Homo sapiens: one gene and its partner. The protein of the gene in region 2 interacts with the protein of the main gene of each other region in a pairwise test. Each region holds a gene or a part of one and is shown on either strand. Other genes may lie near its edges.

Region 1 (9,035 bases), on a different chromosome or scaffold from region 2:
CCACCCCAGCACTGCCGCAGACCTGGCCCAGCAGCTCCTGCTCCTTAGCAGGGGATGAGCACGCCCACCACAGCCACCCTCTTCTCCAGGCTGCAGGGCAGGCTCCAGCTCCCCATGGGGGCCCCATCAGGCCAGGGCCCCTGGCTTTACTGCAGGGGAGAGGGTCTCTTGTGCAGACCCCATATGGCTCGTGCCCCCTAGAGCTGAGATGAGGCAGCCGGCCTGGCTGTAGCTGCACGGAGCCACCTGGAAAGCCAAAGGCAAGCTCCAGCTCCAGACCAGGCATTGGGCCAGCCGTGCCTGTTACCGTAAGTTCTGTTCATGGCCTCAACCAACTGCCCAACCATGCGGGCAAATGACCAAGACGCCATCTCTTGGGCCCCTCAGAACCAATGTTGCAGCAAGGTGGGCTCACTGCAGCAAGGGGCAGAGCCACCACCACGGTGCCTTCTGCTCACTGGGGAGGGAGGAGTGTCCCCACTGGTCGGGGCTCCCCCGCCTGCTGGAACCTCCCAAGTCCTGCCCCCTGCATTTCCCTGTGCAAGGGGAGAAGGAGCAGTAGGAGACCCTCATGCAGGAGGGAGGGAGCCGCAGTCCTCAGGGGAAGGGACACAGGGAGAGGCAGGGGCACAGAGGCAGGAAAGGATGGCCAGAGCCCAGCCTACTTTCTGCTGAGCTCCTTGGCCCGGCAGGTGGCAGCCTCCACGGCGCTCATGGTGGCTGCTCGCAGCCCGCCCTGCTCCAGGGCGTGGAGTCCATAGATGGTGGTGCCACCCGGGGTGCACACGTCTGAGCGCAGCTGGGCTGGGTGTTGGCCCTCGTGCAGCAGCATCTTGGCCGTCCCCTGAGGAGAGCGTTAGGGCCTGGTGACGGGGGGAGGTGGTGCGGTCCCCACTGTGCGGCCTGCCCTCGTTGCATCCCCCAACCTTGGCCCCAGCTTCTCGAGCCTGCTGTTTCCCTGCGCACTGGAAGAGGTACAGGCCTGGGCCTTCCCGATGTTCCCCAGGGGCCACCCTCACTCACCAGCAGGGTCTGGGCAGCGATGCGGTGGGCCAGGCTGCTGGGCATGCCCATCTTGACGGCTCCTTCAGCCAGGGCCTCGGAGAATGCACACACCTGTAGCCGCGGCATGGTGGTTGGGGGGGATAGGTGTCAAAGCCTGGGGGCTCAGGACCTTCAGGAACAATGCCCAGAGCAGTAGCCGTGGGTGGCCAGAACCAAGGCCTGAGCCCAACGGTCTGCAAAGGGGCTGGCCTCAAAGATCCCCAAGGCAGTGAAGTCCCGGGGACAAGCAGAGCTCCCAGTGGGCCTGGGGAGCAACCACGCAGGCCTCAAGGTTGGACTCTGAGGGCAGAGGCTGTCAGAGGGACTGGGGTGGGCCCCCTCTTTGCCGAGGGTGGGGCCGGGGATGGACGAGGCAATACTCACGAAGGCCACGCCACTGCCACTGAGGCCAGTGTGGATGTCGACGTAGGCTTCAGGCACCTCCTCACACCGCCCACAGGCCTCCAGCAGATGCTGCAGGAGCTTGGTCTCGCTGCTCCCCACGTGGCGGCCCCGCGCCATCACTATGGCCCCTTCCTGGACCACACAGGGCAGGTTGGGCAAGACCCGCAGCACCCGTGTGTTTGGGGGCAGCAGCTGGCCAGAGAGAGGTCAGAATCAGGGAGTCTGTAGGACTGGGCCCTGCTGGGCAGGCCCCAGCAGGGGCCTCAGGAAAGGTCCACGTCAGCTCGCGGTGGGCTCCAGCGTCTGCCTCCCAGGTACAGCACCAGGAGGGAACCCTAAATCCAGCCACTTGATCCAGGTGGGCCACACGGCCACCTCTCAGGCTCTCTGGGGGGCTGCCTGCCGCCCAAGCCTGGCCAGCAGAGCCTATACTGGGACCAAGGCCTTAGCCCAAGGGACACTCACCTCCTCCAGGGTGCTCAGAGACACCCCAGCAGCCACGGACACCAAGATGTGTTCAGTGGTGACCACAGGAGCCACCTCTGCCAGGACAGCTGGCAGCACATGAGGCTTGGTGGCAAAGATGACGAGCAGGCAGCTCTGCAGCACCTCCTGGTTGGAGTGCGTGGTCCGGCAACCCAGAGCCTGCGCCAGGGACACCAGGACCAAGCCTCAGGGGCCATGTAAGCGGCGCACCCTCTCCATCACAGCCCTTCCTGCTGGATGCCACACGTTCCCATGGTCCCAGGGCCTCTCCCATTGCAAGTGTCTAGACCACCCCGACTTCTCCAGTGCCCAAGACTCCCCCAGACTAGCCCTACTCCTCACAGGCCATCCTGATGTCAGCGCCTCCCCAAGCCCTGAGCCCTCCATCCCCAGTGAATGTCTGTGACCACCACCCAGCATGCAAACACACCCATGCACATGCACGCACTCACGAGCATGCATTCATATACACACACGCAGACACATGCACTCACGAGCATACATACACATGTACACATGAATGCACTCATGAGCACAAACACATGCACACACACCCACTCGAGCATGCACTCATGTGTACACGCACGCACTCATACACGCACACACGCACTCATATACACATCTGCACAGGCACACATGCACAAGCACATACGTGCACTCACGACCACACAGGTGCACATGCACTCATGAGCATGCACTCATACACACACGCACACACATGCACTGACATACATGCACTCACCACACGTGCACACGCACACACAAGCGCACGTGCAAACGCACATGAGCACATACATACACACATGCACACGCATAGCCTCACATATACACACGTGCATATACACACACTCACGGACATGCACTCACACATGCATACACACACACACACAAACACTTTGCTTTGGCCCTCCACAACCTTACTTTCCTCCTGGCCTCTAATCTCCCTTTTCCCAGCCCAGACCAGCCAGTCTGCAAACTTCAGCTAAATAAACCACCCATCCCTGGCTCTGATAAGTGTCTTAGTGGGACAGGAGCCAAGAGCTATCCTGGGCTCCTGAGGGTATGAAGAACCTGGGCTCTATGCTCACTTGAAAGTGACATAGGTTCCTGTCTGTTGGTGCACTGGCCAGTATGTGCTGAGCTTCCACTTTTCCTGGAAAGAAAGGAAAAGGAAGAGGGGTTGGTGAAGGGGTGGGATAGGATGGCACGGAGAGGAGAGGGAGCTCACTTGGCCTCTCAGGCTCAGCCACGCCTGGCCCATCCTGGGCCCCCTCCTGGCCCCAGGAACCCAAAGCGGGATGCACCATTCACTGGGCCCAGGCAATCAGATCCACTGATTCTACTTGGCGGTCAACGCCCCTGACTGCTGCTGGGTATGGAGGCCAGGAGCTTACCTCATTGGTGAGGACACAGATCCCTGGGGCCTCTGCCTCCAGGGAAGGGAAGGCTGCCTGGAGCAGAAGAGGCAGTACCTCTGGAGGAACACCAGGCCTTGGGGGAATGTGGTGGGTACAAAGGCAGTTGATTGGCCACAGAAGGCCCAATCGGGGCCCAGGTTCTTCGAGAGGGAGAGTCTATGCTGGAATGTCTAAGAAAAGGCTAAATGCCTACTTGGTAGAAATTATCTGCTTTTGTCGGGTACGGGGTGGAAAGATTGGGTTAGATTTTGGTAAGGTCGAACAGGAAGGCACAAGTGTACACCACAACCTGAACACAGCAATTAATCATGACAGTGGCAGCCAAACACACCAGTACTAAGCTCAACACTAGACATTTATGTCTCATTTAACCTGTACAGCTCTGGGAGGCATGCGGTACTGCCAGGTTTCACAGGGAAGACTCCTGAGACTCATAGTAAGCTATTTCCCGATTGATCTTGACTCTTCTGGACCCTGAAGTATGGCTGAAGGCAGAGAGTCAAAAGTCACCCAGCTCTCCCTATCCACAATCTGCAGAGAGGCTTCTAAATGCCTGGAGGAGTATATGGTCAGCATAAATATTCCGGGTATAAAGCAGTGTTTCTCAACAGGGGATGATTTTGCCTGTCTCCTCCCCCCACCCAGGGGACATTCGGCAGTGTCTGGAGGCATTTTTGGCTGTCACAACGTGGGGGTGCTGCTGGCACAGGATGGATAGTCTGGCCCAGGTGTCCCTAGAGCCAAGGTGTCTGGGGGAGAAGCCCTGCTGCTCCCCATGAGAGGGGCTGGCGCGCAAAGAGAAAATCAGAGGCTGGAAGAGGTGAGCCTGGCCAAGGCCACGCGGCCAGGAAGCCGGCCACGGAAGCGGCACCTAGCCACGTGTGACTCAAATCTTCCCGCAGCCACGTCAAAAAAGTAAGAGCAAACAGGCGTGGCCCCGGCTGCGCCCAGCGGAGCGGAGACCCGGTTGGCTGGGCCCGCGCCCCCGGCCCCACTCTCGCGGCAGGACACCTCCCACGGGGCTGCTCCCACTCCAGACCGCAGGCCTAGCCCCGCGCCGCCCCACCTGCTCTGATGAGGCCCTGCGCGATGGCCCCCGCCATGCGGCCCGCGCCCACGAAGCCCACGCGCCGCGGAGACGGCTCCGCAGCTGCCATCTTGTTGCCTCGGACGCCGCTGCGCTCACCGCCCATCCACAGGCCGCGCCCCGCCCACAGATCTAGGCCCCACCCCCGCCCTCCAATAGGACTCGCCTCCCCGTCCCCACCCTCGCCGATTGGTTACTGGGACGGCACACTCCGGCCGGCTTTTTGTCCGCACTCTACAAGTTCGCAAGGCGCGGGAACCCCGCCTCTCGCTGCTTATTGGCCCGAAAGGGCTATGCCGCCCCTCACTGCCCATTGGCTGAGAGAAACTGGGGGCGGGGCCGTAAGGGGCGGGGCCGGCGGGGTACTCGCGCTCGGAGAGGCCGGAGGAGCGGGGAGGGGTCCCGGTCGCGCGTGCGAGGAGCACATGTTGGTTTTCCGGAGGGGAGGGGTAGCGAAGCGGGTTGCGGGGCTGGTCCAGAGCGTGCGGTCACTGAGGCCCCGCCGACCACAGACGGTGGAGCTGCGGGGAAGCACTAGGGGCGGAGACCCAGGTCACGGAGAGCAGGCCAGGGCCAGGGGCCTGAGACCGACGGAGGGGACAGTCGGGGAGGGGGTACTCGTCACTTTTAATGACACAAGGAAAACAAGGCTTGAAGATCTGAGTGCGGTTTTTTCATCATCCAATCTAAAGCTGCATGTTACATATGTTATTTTCTTTTGAAGCCTTTGACATTTTCTTTTTTCTTTTTTTTGAGACGGAGTCTCGCTCTGTCGCCCAGGCTGGAGTGCAGTGGCGCCATCTGGGCTCGCTGCAAGCTCCGTCTCCCGGGTTCACGCCATTCTCCTGCCTCAGCCTCCCAAGTAGCTGGGACTATAGGCGACCGCCACCACGCCCGGCTTATTTTTTTGTATTTTTAGTAGAGATGGGGTTTCACCTTGTTAGCCAGGATGGTCTCAATCTCCTGACCTCGTGATCCACCTGCCTCGGCCTCCCAAAGTGCTGGGATTACAGGCGTGAGCCACCGTGCCGGCCCAAGCCTTTGACATTTTCTAAGCTCTTCAGTAATGAAATCCTCTCATTGATTCAACATTCACTGTGCAGCTGCAGCCTCTGGGCCCTGCTCTGGGCCTGGGCAAGATCACCCCACGGCAGCAGATGGGACAGGCTGGACCCCACCCTGCAGCCCTGCTTGGTGGCAGTGTAGACAGACTACAGTCAGCACACACGCAGGACAGCCAGTGTGTCAAGGCTCTGAAGCAAATGAGGTGGAAAGGGACAGAAAGCCACCAGGAGGCTGCTTCGGCCACTGCAGCCGAGAAACGTGGGTGGTGGACACTTTGCACCAGCACACAGCGTCAGCAGCTGTATCTCCTGCCACCTCGGATCCTCCCAGCCCCTTCCCACAGACTCCCTGGATTTTCTCCCAGGCCCCCTGGGCCAGTGATGGCTCAGGACCAAGGCTGTGGGGAGGTGAGAGGGGCCAGAGGCATCCAGTGCCATGCCATCATACATAAGGACAAAGCTCATCATAAACAAGTGGACTGAGGCGAGGTGAAGGAGGATTGCTGGCTGAGTGCCCAGGGCCACAGTGGGTAAAAGGAGGCCCAGGGGCCCAGCCCCGTTCAGCTTCTCCGTCCCATGCCGGGCTGGGCTTCTGAGCATCAGCTGGGAGCCCTCAGCTGACGTGGACACCCAGCCAGCCAAGGCTTGTGTCCAGGGCACCTCTCTGCTCTTGGCTGGGCTTCTTCCCACTGTTCACCTGGTGGATCCAAGCAGCCACATAGGCGCCACCCTCTCCAGGAGGCCTTTCCTGAACCCCCACATGGGCAGAGCCTTTATCCACAAAGGGCTGGGGCCAGGGGATACACTGTGAACGAGGCCAACCCGTCTCCTGGAGCTCGAGGTCCTGGGGTGTCAGCGGGAGGGTTAGGGGTTGAGGCGGGGCTCCCAGAGGTTTCCAGACAAACAATCCCAGCAGGGCAGGGTGGATGCTCCGAGAGGCGCTGTGAAGGTGCCATCAGGGAAGGTGTTTTGGAGGCTGGGCCACCTCAGCTGAGGCCTAAAAGGTAGGGAGGCCTTGACCCAAGAGGGGGCCAGTCTCAGGGGAGGCCTGGAGGACACCTCGGCTTGCTGGACACAAAGGGACAGTGAGAGATGAGGTGAGCGGTTGGCTGGGTGCAGGACACACCGGTCTGGACTCAGTGCCGGGACAGGGAGGACACATCACCGCTGCCGGAATGAACGAAGAAGTGAAGCAGCAGGTCCTACCTGCAGCCAAAAGGCATCATGTGCGTGAAGACGGCACAGGGCGCCCAGGAGAGGGACCCTGAGGACGTGGGCCCAGAGTTGGGCCAGGAGCCAGGGAGGGCATCTGGGTCCTGGATGCAGTGGACCAGAGGGTTCTGGCATAGGGGCTCCCTCTGTGAGAGGCACTGAGAAAGGGGGCGACGGGCAAGCCGGGGCCTGGAGCCCAGTGCTCCTGGTCCATACCCCAGCGCCACCCTGCCTGGCTGAGGCACTGGCCCGGGAACCATTCTGGACTTTGCTGTCTCCCCTCTGAGAATGGACGGGGGCGGCGAGCAATGACACCCCACCTCTGGTGGCTGGAGCTGACCTGTCCAGCAGGCACCTGTCCCTCTCCATGGGATAAGGCCAGGTGGGGGACCCACGCCCAAGCCTGAGAGCCACAGAGAGGAGGGGCCAGGCCAGGGGAAGCCCGAGCCACCCAATCATCAGCCTCCCCTCATATCCATCCATGGGCTCAGCTCGGCTGGCTCACTAGACGTTTCTGGCCCACTAGACCAGCTTCCCCAGAGCCCTCAGGCTGAGGCAGGGAGGTCCGGGTGAGCTCAAGTTACTCAGGCCTGCAGGTGGCCACATGTGGAGGGGCTGGGACTGGCCCTGCCCTGCACATCCTTGTCCAGCTGACAGTCCACACCAGTCTCACTGCTGCCTGCCTGCTGCCTGCCCACGTGTGCCTTCCCATCTCCAGCCTCTGCGGCCTTTCCACCCCAGGGAGTCACCAGCTCTTGGGGGCTGAACAGTAAGCCAGGGGGATAGTGGGTCCTGGGACTGGCCAGGCTAGGGGGCAGTCCCTGGGTGTGGGGGACGGCTCAGCACAGAGCTGCCAAGGCCAGGCCTGTGAAAATGCACTTTATTGGCTCCCAGGGAGTGGGATGCAGGATCAGAGTGGACACGCGCAGGGGGCTGGTGTGGGGAGCAAAGCGCCGGGCCTGCCCGGGACCCTGGTTTCCCTGAGGACCAACGTGAATGGGGGCCCCACTGGAAAGATGCTTGGGGCTGCAGAGCGGATGGAATGCAGGCCCAGGTTGCTGGGTGGTGCCCTCAGCTCCTGGCAGGGTTGACGGGTGGTGGCCGCTGGGCTCTGCCAGCCGATGGTCCGCTGGCACCTGATCCTGTCTTCCAGCTTCACTTCCGGGCCTGCTCGTAGTTGTCAGTGAACCAAGCACAGGTCTCCTTCACCGCTGCAGAGGCAGGCAGGTGAGGGCCATGGACAGGGAGGGTCGGGGCCGCATGGGAGGAAGTGGGGGGAGGAGGCCCAGGGACAGGGAAGTCACCCCTCAGAGCTTTGGTGTCCCACCTCCAGGGCAGTACAGGCTCTGAGGGGGCACCTCACCTCTGCCCTGGTAGCGAGCATGAGGGAGGGGCTGGGGCAGGCCTCCACCAAGTGGAGGGCTGTGGGGTCAGGGCTCACCCTGCTTGAAGGGTGTGAACCGGAAGTCGGGCAGGTAGGTCCTCAGCTTGCTGTTACTGGCTGTCTTCTTAAACTGCCCATCCGACTTGGTTGTATCAAACTGGAGGCTTTGTCAAGGCCACAGCGAGAAGAGCACCTCCACCCCAGCCCCCGCAGCTTGCCCTTGAACCTCTGCCATTCCCAGGGGAGCCACAGCAGAGCTCCTCCGCCTGCCAGGGTGAGCATCCTCCCTCCGCAGTGTCCCACCCACGCTGGCCCTACACCGGGTGGCCACTGAGCCCGCCCAAGGGGCCCCCGCCCAACCCCCAGCACTGGAGCCAGAGGATACGGTGACTTCCCCATGGAAGTCCATGGCCTCCACCACCGCCTCGGCTGCCTCCTTGATGGAGACCTCATCTTCCTCGCCCACTGTGGGGAGCCACCGGGTCAGGCCTCCCCTTGGTGCCACCCGACGGCCCATGAATATTCCTGCTCCCACCCCTCAGCCAGCCTCCCAGGACAACCTTGGATCCTGTCCTACCATGGAGGAAGGGGGCTGAGGGCTGAGGTACCCACCGGAGAGGATGATGGGCTCCACTTCATTGTACTCCCGCAGGACCCAGATAAAGAGCTGGGCCAGGTCCTAGAGGTCAGACAGGCAGGGTCAGAGACCATGGGTATAGCCAACCCTCTCCCAAACGCCCCTGCTGGGGAGTCCATACTGCTGTCCTTGTTCAGTGGGGGCTCAGCCTGGGGAACAGGGGTCCCTCCTTTCTCCCTTGGAGCTCAGAGCTACGCCAGTGACTCCTGGAGACAGGAGCCTATGGGGCCTCCACGAGGACCAGAGATGGCTCCTCTTGGAGCTCAGCCCAGATTCTCTGCTGGTAGGAGCCTCCCTC
Region 2 (9,238 bases):
ACTCAGCGCTGGAGTGGGAGATTCATCCATCGGAAGATTCGTAGCCACCAGGTCCAGTCAAGGATTTCATATGCACTTTCCCTCAGAAAACCCTGAAAAGCAAACGACCCCTGGAATGTCACACACTCCTAAATATCCCTGGAAATCCGCTTCTCTGTGTTTCGCTTCATGGTGAGTGTCGAGGGCCAGATAAGACAAAGAAAAAAATGTATGGAAGGTTATTCCCGGTCGGCTCCTCCTTCCTGTGAGTCTCAGACAGGCTTGCAGGCTTACAGGCTTTCCGCCGCTCCCCGTTGGCAGCCTTCATCGAATTAGGTGGGTGGGGGTGGGAAATTGGGTAAGAAAATAAAGTCGTTGTGGGCGGCTGGGGAACCTGGCGTCAGTCCCCCGTGGCTGTGCGCAGGTACCCTGCAACGTCGCGGTGGCCCCGCTCCTCGGCCAAGTCCACGGGCAGACGACCCCAGGCATCGCGCACGTCCAGCCGCGCCCCGGCCCGGTGCAGCACCACCAGCGTGTCCAGGAAGCCCTCCCGGGCAGCATCATGCACCGGTCGGGTGAGAGTGGCAGGGTCTGCGCAGTTGGGCTCCGCGCCGTGGAGCAGCAGCAGCTCCGCCACGCGGGCGCTGCCCATCATCATGACCTGCCAGAGAGAGCAGAGTGGTCAGAGCCAGGGTGGGGGCAGGTATGGGAGATGCCGGCCGGGGCAAGGCAGGTGGAGCCATTTAAAGAAACACCTAATTGCAAAGTTTTCACCCAGTGCAGAGGTGTTCAGGTCTCTGATGTCTGGTGTTTCTTCATTTGCTGATGCAATCCACTTTCCCACCCCACCTTCAGGTTATACTCAGTACAAATTAAATGCCATTTTATTCTCTAAACGTGCAGAGACAAGAAAGTTGATGGTAAAGTGATGATCATCATTATGGAAAAACAAATCTTGATTTCCATTGGAACATGGGAATCTATTTTGTTAAATGATTTAGGGGCAGAGTTAAATTTATTCGGCTTTTAAAGTTTTAAATTATTTGCCTTGCTGACCCCTCCTCCATAATCCAGGTCTACAAATATTTATTAGGTAGTCAACTACTGTTTGTTAGAAGTTGGGAGTAATGGTTTAGGGGAGAAAATAAACAACTAAGTTTTTTTCTTTCTTTTTTTTTTAATTTATTTAGTTCTCATAGCAAATCCCGTGCGGAAGGCTTTTGTTTGTCATGTGTCTGAGCTCATAACTGGCTTGTAGTGTGATAATTTGAGCCAAAGTTGGAGATTAGAAGGGAAAAGTAAATTAAATCATGCAAAATCTTATAAAATTATAATAAATGATTTTTCCTTAACAGTTCATCATTTTAAATTTAGACTATAATATTTTTAATGTAATATAAAACTAACTATATTTGTATACTACAGGATTTTATAATAGCTAAGATTTAAAAATGTTAAACAGTAAATATTTTGCTATATAAAAAGAGCTTGGGCCAGGCCCAGTGGCTTATGCCTGTAATCCCAGCACTTTGGGAGGCCATAGCAGGCAGATCACCTGAGGTCAGGAGTTCGAGACCAGCCTGGCCAACATGGTGAAATCCCGTCTCTACTACAAAAAATAAAAAATTAGCTGGGCATGGTGGGGCGTGCCTGTAGTCCCAGCAACTCAGGAGGCTGAGGCAGGAGAATCGCTTGCATCCTGGAAGAGGTTGCAGTGAGCTGAGATTGTGCCACTGCACTCCAGCCTGTCCGACAGAGTGAGGCCTCATCTCAAAAAAAATAAAATAAATAAATAAATAAATAGAGCTTGGATGTTAGCAGTCAATCAGGATGATGCATAACTTAGAAAAAATGATGTTTTGCAGGAGTAATCCTGTAGCAGCCATTTGTGTACATGAACATTATGAAAACATTTGCTGTCATATTTAAAGTCAATTATAAGACAATTTTTGGTAACTAAATGTCTAAAATCGAGTTATTTGTTATGGGTTTATGCACTTTAAAATATACCATTTAATTGAAAGGCAGTATACTTCTCATGTTTTGTTGGCTTGTTTCATTAATATTAGAAATGTTCATTTCATCTCTTAAAAACCGTGATAAGTTATATCTACTAGTGATGTAAGGATATTTTACATAGAAAAAAAGGGGAAAATAGCTGCTGTTAGTATTTCAGAAAATGGTGAATTACATATATAACTTGTTTTTATAATTATTAATAAAATTTTAAGTTTTTAAGATGCACTTTACAATATTTTTGCTCCTTTAAAAATCCCTCATTTGTTATACCATTATTCTAAGAATTCAAAAGAAATGAACACTTCTTTAAAATCTATACTATTAACAAGATCCCTTAATATTAGCTTAGTTTTAGAGGGTGATAGTGAGGTGAGTACTGAATATGACCACTAGCCAACGGTAAAGTACAAAAGAGTTGTCCGAGATTGTAAAAGAAATAAAAAATATCAGTACTAATTAAAGCAGGATTCGTACTTAAACATTGAATAAGTGTATTTTAACAATGAAGATAAAGATGCATTATTTATGAAGATCCTTTGCCATTCAAAAAGGACCTAACAGTTGCTGCAGGAATATTTTTGTAATCTGGGCACTGAGTATGATAATTAAAGAATGAGAAACCTATAGAACTATATATTTTTTCTCTTATGCATCACTCATAAGACACTGCTAACATAAAAGGAACTAAGTACTGTGGTTGAGGAATCCCGTCTCATTCTCAATTAACCTCTATGAGAAAACAATACAACAGATTTCATATAGTAGCTTAGAAGTTTACATTGATTTTTTCCATGTACTATGATTTTGTAGAATTCCTTAAATCCAATCTAGAATGCGTAACTTATACTTTACTTATCTTTATCGTTGAAAGCAGACAGACAAGATAATCTTCTTCCCTAAATAAGCTTTCCTTTTCTCCTTTTCTCCCCAATTCAGTCTATTCCTTGCATCTCTGATCATGAGATGGCAGAACAAAAACCACTAAAAAAAGCTTAAACAGTGGGTTTTTCAATGTCTCTCTTTAGGATTTTTGCTGGGTAAAAGCCTGTTTTACGCGTGGAATGCACACCTCCGGCCAACGGAGACTCCTGTACAAATCTACATCGGCGATCTAGGTTCCAGCCCCGATCCGCCGAGGCCGCGCCCCGCGTTCGCGCGCCCCCTGCCGGCGAGGCCCTGGGGCCCCAGCTACCTGGATCGCGCGCCTCCCGAAACGGTTGACTCCGTTGGGATCCGCGCCGGCTTCCAGGAGCTGTCGCACCTTCTCCACTAGTCCCCGCGCCGCGGCGCTGGCCAGACCCTCATCGCTGCCGCCCCCACTGGGCATGCCCTTGTTCTCCTCGCGCATTCCGCAGCCCCCAGACGCGCAGCGGCCCGGATAATCCACCGTTGGCCGTAAACTTAACGACACTCTTCCCTTCTTTCCCACGCTGCTCCGGCGCACTCTCTCCTTCCTAGGAGACCTGGGCTCAGCTTCATTACCCTCCCGTCGTCCTTCTGCGGCTTGGGGCCCCGTGCAGTGGCCGAGCGGCCGGTCGTTAGCTCCGGGCTTTTCCTGGCGCTCAAGAACCAGCGGGCGCGCCTGGATTGCTTCTGGGAAAAAGCGCCTAGCGCGGACGCAGCCGAGCTCAAAGCCGCTCTGGCCGCAGGGTGCGGACGCGTCGCGGAGTCCTCACTGCCCCGCCTCGCTCTGGCAGAGTGGGGAGCCAGCCGGCAAAGAATTCCGTTTTCAGCTGGGCCAAGGGGCCGGCGTCTCCCCACCCCCTTAGGCTCCGCCCCCTGTCCGCTGTGATCGCCGGGAGGCCAGGCCCGGGCCGACGCGTCACGAGGGCGGGGAAGCCTGCCCAAAGATGCTAGGACGCATGCGCCAGAGACTGGGCCAGGGAGCCGCCAGGAATGCTGGCTGCACTGCTCGCTGGATGTCCAGTAAAGCCAAGGCTAATATTTTGGGAATGTTCACCACTGCCCTCAGCTCCTAATCCCCAGTAGGCGGAGCAGAGGATTTCTGTTCCTTCAGCCAGCCAGTTGGTTTCACTGTGGAGACGTTGGTGGCTCCCTTGTGACCGAGAGAAAGTCATTCAAAATAACTCCGTGTTTCTTAAGATGTCTGAAAGCGACAGCTCTGCACCTGTCATACAAGTTAAATTCATCCCCAGGCAGTACTTGGGCTTCACAAGTTTCATAACTTGTATCAAACTTAGCAATTTTCTCTTGGATGTGTCTTTCTGTTTGAATTAGTCAACCATAAAAATAGAGAAAAATCCCGAGAATCATGTTTTGCGTGTGCTTTTTAATTCTTTCCATTTTTGCATTATGGATACAACCCTTAAAAGAGAAAAAAACTAGTTCGAGATTGAGAGTGGCAACCTGGCACACATAAGACAAAAAAAAATTATACTTTAAGAATCTGAGATCCCAGTTTCATCATATTTGTACAGTAAATCTTTGTTTGCACTCTTACCTATTTAAACCCACTTTGTCAGGTATCTTATTTTTATTTATCATGAGTAATAAAGGAAATTTATGCAGTAATAATGAAACATCATAAGAGAGGGGTGTGGTGCTGGGCTTGTCATTAAACAGGCTGAACCTGTCATTAAATTCTCTTCTGAAGATTTAAATGCCAAGTGCTTTTTTTCCCCTTCCTAATCTTCCTAGGTGAGTTTGAATCAACATTTATTACTTAAAATATTTAAAACATTTCAGCGGATGCTACATTGGATAGGAAGAGAACCGCAAGTTATGGATTTGTTGCCTAAAAACTTTGGTGAGGAACTGCATAAGTGGACCTCTCCTAAAAGTGAACAATTTTTGTTTACAGAATCATTTTGGTTCGGAGTGCTGAGGAAGACAAAGTCTTAACAGGAGGGCAATTGCTTGTGTATTGCAAAATGAGAGTCTTCACATGTTTTTTTTAGGATACCTTAGCTCTGACTCCTCATCCCCCAAATCCCTGTAGAATTAAAAAAAGCTCTTTCTTTTAAAGGCAGTGGAAGTGCCACCACCATGGAAGTGCTGGTTAGGGCTGAAAATCTACTGACAGAGCCTCAACAGAGCTGAAATCCACCTGGACAGGGAAGGGAACCGGGTAGCATTAATAACAATTTCTTTTTCTTTCCCATCCAACCCCCATTTCCTAGTCTTCAGTTTCTTAATTTCTCTACCTTTTACTCTTATGCTCTTGTTTTGACCTTTGAGTTTCTCTGAAACTTATCAGAAAAGTTAGGACAAGATAGTCTGACCCAATTCTTGAGCCATTTTCTTAGGTAGTAAATATGTCAGAAAAATGAAAGCTGTTTGGAGTTGATAAGGAAATGGAAGATAATGTTTTTCTTTGAGGGGGACATAAAGAATGGTGATAGGGAAAGAACCAATGACTAAGTAAAATGACTGAGAATCTTGCACGAGGCAGATGTGTGAGCTTCGCGAAGCAAGTTGACTGAATGAAAAACAACTTTGGGTAGGGAAAACGTTGCCGGGGGCATTCGCGCTTACTAGCACCACGGACAGCGCTTTGCTTATACTCAGGCCTGGGTGGTCCTAACCAGCTCCAGACAGAATTCTAAAGCTTCACACTTGATCTTCCAAAGCCCCTTTTCTCCCGTCAAATAGAAAGGACATTATGGAAGCTCAATGAATTTCTTTGAAAAACCAACCTGCTCAACCTGGTTTTCAAATATGATTGGATTTTATCTAATATTCTCTGTATAAAGAATATTATATAGTCTATATTTAGAAGACGAGAAGAGAAATCAAACTTATTGTGTACTCTGTACGAAGTGCTTTACAGCTGTTGTTTCATTTAATACTCATAAAACTCCTCTGTGGCATGTGTCCATATTTCAATTTTACAGACAAGCCAAAAGGATCAGAGAATTTGAGTGACTTGTATACTAGCTAATCATTGTTGGAGGTGGGTATAACTTTTGCGACTTCAGAGTCTTTTTACCCTTTATACTACATAGTGTTTTTTTTAGCAGCTGTCATGGTAGGCTTAACTGGAAAAAAGTAATAAACTGGCTTATAATTATTTTTCAGTCTACACTGTGTTTTCCAGATGGCTCACCTCACAGCACACCCTTACCAGACTTCAAAGATGACATTTCACATGTAATACAATAGCACATTTGTCTTGGACAATAGAGTGAGATTATGAAACATTTTACCTCTCCTTGAAACCCAGCTGTCTCTAGGGTGAAACACAATCTGTTGTTAATGCTTTAAACACATTTAAAAGATGAAGTGGATGGGAACATAGTGGGCAGCTGAAACTTGGAATTGTCAGAGCCATGTCTTTTAATAAGGTGGAGAATTTATAATTGAGAAGAAAGAAAGAGAAAGTTAATGGTAAATTGGCATAGAATTTTGGAGGTCAGTAGAAGGGAATGAGTGGCATCCATTCCAATGTTGCACATAACTCAGATCACTAGTAATAATATTTTTATATTCTAGTTGGTGAAATTGTCTGTATATGACCTTGATATAGAAGTATGAACAGATCTGCCATCCTCTTTTTCTTCAGCGAGGCAGCCGAGCTGCAGACACAGAGATGCAGATCTTTGTGAAGACCCTCACGGGCAAGACCATCACCCTTGAGGTCGAGCCCAGTGACACCATTGAGAATGTCAGTGCGAAAATTCAAGACAAGGAGGGTATCCCCCCTGACAAGCAGCGTCTGATATTTGCCAGCAAACAGCTGGAGGATGGCCGCACTCTCTCAGACTACAACGTCCAGAAACAGCCCACCCCGCACCTGGTGCTGCACCTGCGAGGTGGCATTATTGAGCCTTCACTCTTCCAGCTCACCTAGAAATACAGCTGAAACAAGATGATCTGCCATAAGCGCTATGCTCTCCTGCACCCCTATGCTGTCAATTGCCGCAAGAAGAAGTGTGGCCACACCAACAACCTGCACCCCAAGAAGGTCAAATAAGGCTCTTCCTTCCTCGGAGGGCAGCCTCCTGCCCAGGCCCCATGGCCCTGGAGCCTCAATAAAGTGTCCCTTTCATTGACTGGAAAAAAAAAAAGTATGAATAGAACTGGTTGACTGGCCAAGAGAAACAGCGACCTAACCTTGCCCTCATTTATGCACACTTTTGCATATGATTAGGACTAAGATAGTGTTTATAAGTGAGAAGAGAAGGAAATTCATAATCACTTTTGGGGCTTTTTCAAATTTTTTATGAACACACCTTCCCACCAAGAGGTTTGATTTTCTCCATTTTATGAGTTGGGTTTATTGCTCCGTGATCCACAGTATATCCACTTCTATATTCCCATGTATTTTTCAAGATTAATTAAATGGTGGACTTGTTCATCATTTTAGTATCCGTATTAGTTTGCTAGGGCTGCCATAACAGAATACCACAGACTGAGTAGCTTAAACAACAAATATTTATTTTCTCAGAGTTTTAACTTCTCCTGAGGCTTCTCTTCTTGACTTGCACATGGCCATCCTACTGCTGCCTCTTCACATAGTCATCCCTCTGTGCACACGTGCCCCTGGATCTCTTGTGTGTGTCCAAATTTCCTCCTCTTTTGAGGACACCAGTCAGATTGGATTAGGGCCCACCCCAATGGCCTTATTTTAACTTAGTCACTTCTTTAAGGGCTCTATTTCCAAATACGGTCAAATTGTGAGGTATTGGGCTTAGGACTTTAATATAAAAATTTAGAGGTGACAGAATTTAACCCATAACAACAGCATCTTAATTTTTACACATTTTACTTTTCATTTCTTTTTAAACTGTTATTAATAATTTATTCATTTGAATAAGGATTAAAATAAGGCTAGGATATTGAAATTGGTTGAAATTGCTACAGTCTCTTGTATCTCTCTCTCTCTCTTTTTTTTCTTATAAGGGACAGGTTTCATTCACCTTGTCGACCAGGCTGGAGTGCAATACTGTGAGCAAGGGTCACTGCTGCCTCGAATTCCTGGGCTTAAGGGATGCTCCTGCCTCATCCTCCAGAGTAGATGGGACTACAGGTGTTGGCCACCATGACTGGCTAATATTTTTACTTTTTTGAAGAGATGAAGTCTTGCCATCTGGCCCAGGCTGGTCCCGAACTCCTGGGCTCACACAATTCTTTCACCTCGGCCCCCCAAAGTGCTGGATTGCAAGTGTGAACCACTGCACCTGGCGTCTTGTTTCCTCTTAATCTACAGTTTCCCCCTTTTGCCTTCTTTTTTTTTCTTTCAATTTATCTATTGCAGAAATTGGCTTTATCTGTAGTTTTCTAAAGCTTGGATTTTGCTGAATGCTTCTTTATAATGACACTTAACATTTTTCTTTGTCATTTGTATTTCTCATAACTTATTATTTAGGCCTAGAGTCTGTATGTGATTCAGGTTTGATATTTGGGCAAAAGTATTTAATAAGTGGGATTACGTACTTTCACCAAGAGACACATAATATGGTTGTCTCTTTCTGTGATTCTAGCAGCCATGGATAATTATTTCATAGATTATTATTTTCTTGGGGATGGCAAAATGGTGATATTCTAATTTTACTATTCCTTCATTTACTAGCTGGAATGTCTTTTTAAATTATTTATTTATTTATTTATTATTTGAGACAGAGTCTTGCACTGTCACCCAGGCTGGAGTGCAGTGGTGTGATCATAGCTCACTGCAACCTGCAACTCCCAGGCTCAAGTGATCCTCCCACCTCAGCTTCCCCAATAGCTAGGACTACAGGCACACATCACCTGGCTAATTTTTAAATTTTTTGTAGAGATGAGGGTCTTGCTTTTTTGCCCAGGCTGGTCTCTAACTACTGGGCTCAGCCTCCTAAGCTCCTCCTGCTTCAGCCTCCCAAAGTGTTGGGATTACAGACATAAGCCACTGTGCCTGGCCTGGAATATTTCTATATAGAAAGTTCTCTTCATTATCTACTTCATTGCTTTCAGGTATATGTAAGAAAGACAGGATAAACCACTAGATTTTGAAATGTATTTATAAATTTTCAAAATAATGAGTTGAGTCCTAGAATCTTTCTTTTATTATTATTATTATTATACTTTAAGTTTTAGGGTACATGTGCACAATGTGCAGGTTAGTTACATAGGTATACATGTGCCATGCTGGTGTGCTGCACCCATTAACTTGTCATTTAGCATTAGATATATATCCTAATGCTATCCCTCCCCCCTCCCCCCACCCCACAACAGTCCCCAGAGTGTGATGTTCCCCTTCCTGTGTCCATGTGTTCTCATTGTTCAATTCCCATCTATGAGT

What was found.
Region 1: the proteins of CDKN2B (region 2) and PYCR3 interact in binary tests that used the Homo sapiens proteins (3 or more experiments, as listed by UniProt).

The regions. Positions count from the first base shown.
Region 1 is NC_000008.11:143,605,039-143,614,073, forward strand, and holds the start of PYCR3 (pyrroline-5-carboxylate reductase 3), read right to left. Parts: upstream 4,538-9,035; 5' UTR 4,511-4,537; coding exon 4,420-4,510; intron 3,839-4,419; exon of another isoform or gene 3,726-3,838; intron 3,089-3,725; coding exon 3,024-3,088; intron 2,095-3,023; coding exon 1,915-2,094; intron 1,642-1,914; coding exon 1,429-1,641; intron 1,117-1,428; coding exon 1,024-1,116; intron 845-1,023; coding exon 662-844; 3' UTR 1-661. Other genes in the region: GFUS (GDP-L-fucose synthase), read right to left, coding at 7,872-7,927, 8,158-8,257, 8,486-8,565, 8,713-8,779.
Region 2 is NC_000009.12:22,005,608-22,014,845, forward strand, and holds the start of CDKN2B (cyclin-dependent kinase 4 inhibitor B), read right to left. Parts: upstream 3,699-9,238; 5' UTR 3,347-3,698; coding exon 3,191-3,346; coding exon of another isoform or gene 3,110-3,190; exon of another isoform or gene 3,068-3,109; intron 641-3,067; coding exon 380-640; 3' UTR 1-379. UniProt on the Homo sapiens protein: Interacts strongly with CDK4 and CDK6. Potent inhibitor. Potential effector of TGF-beta induced cell cycle arrest.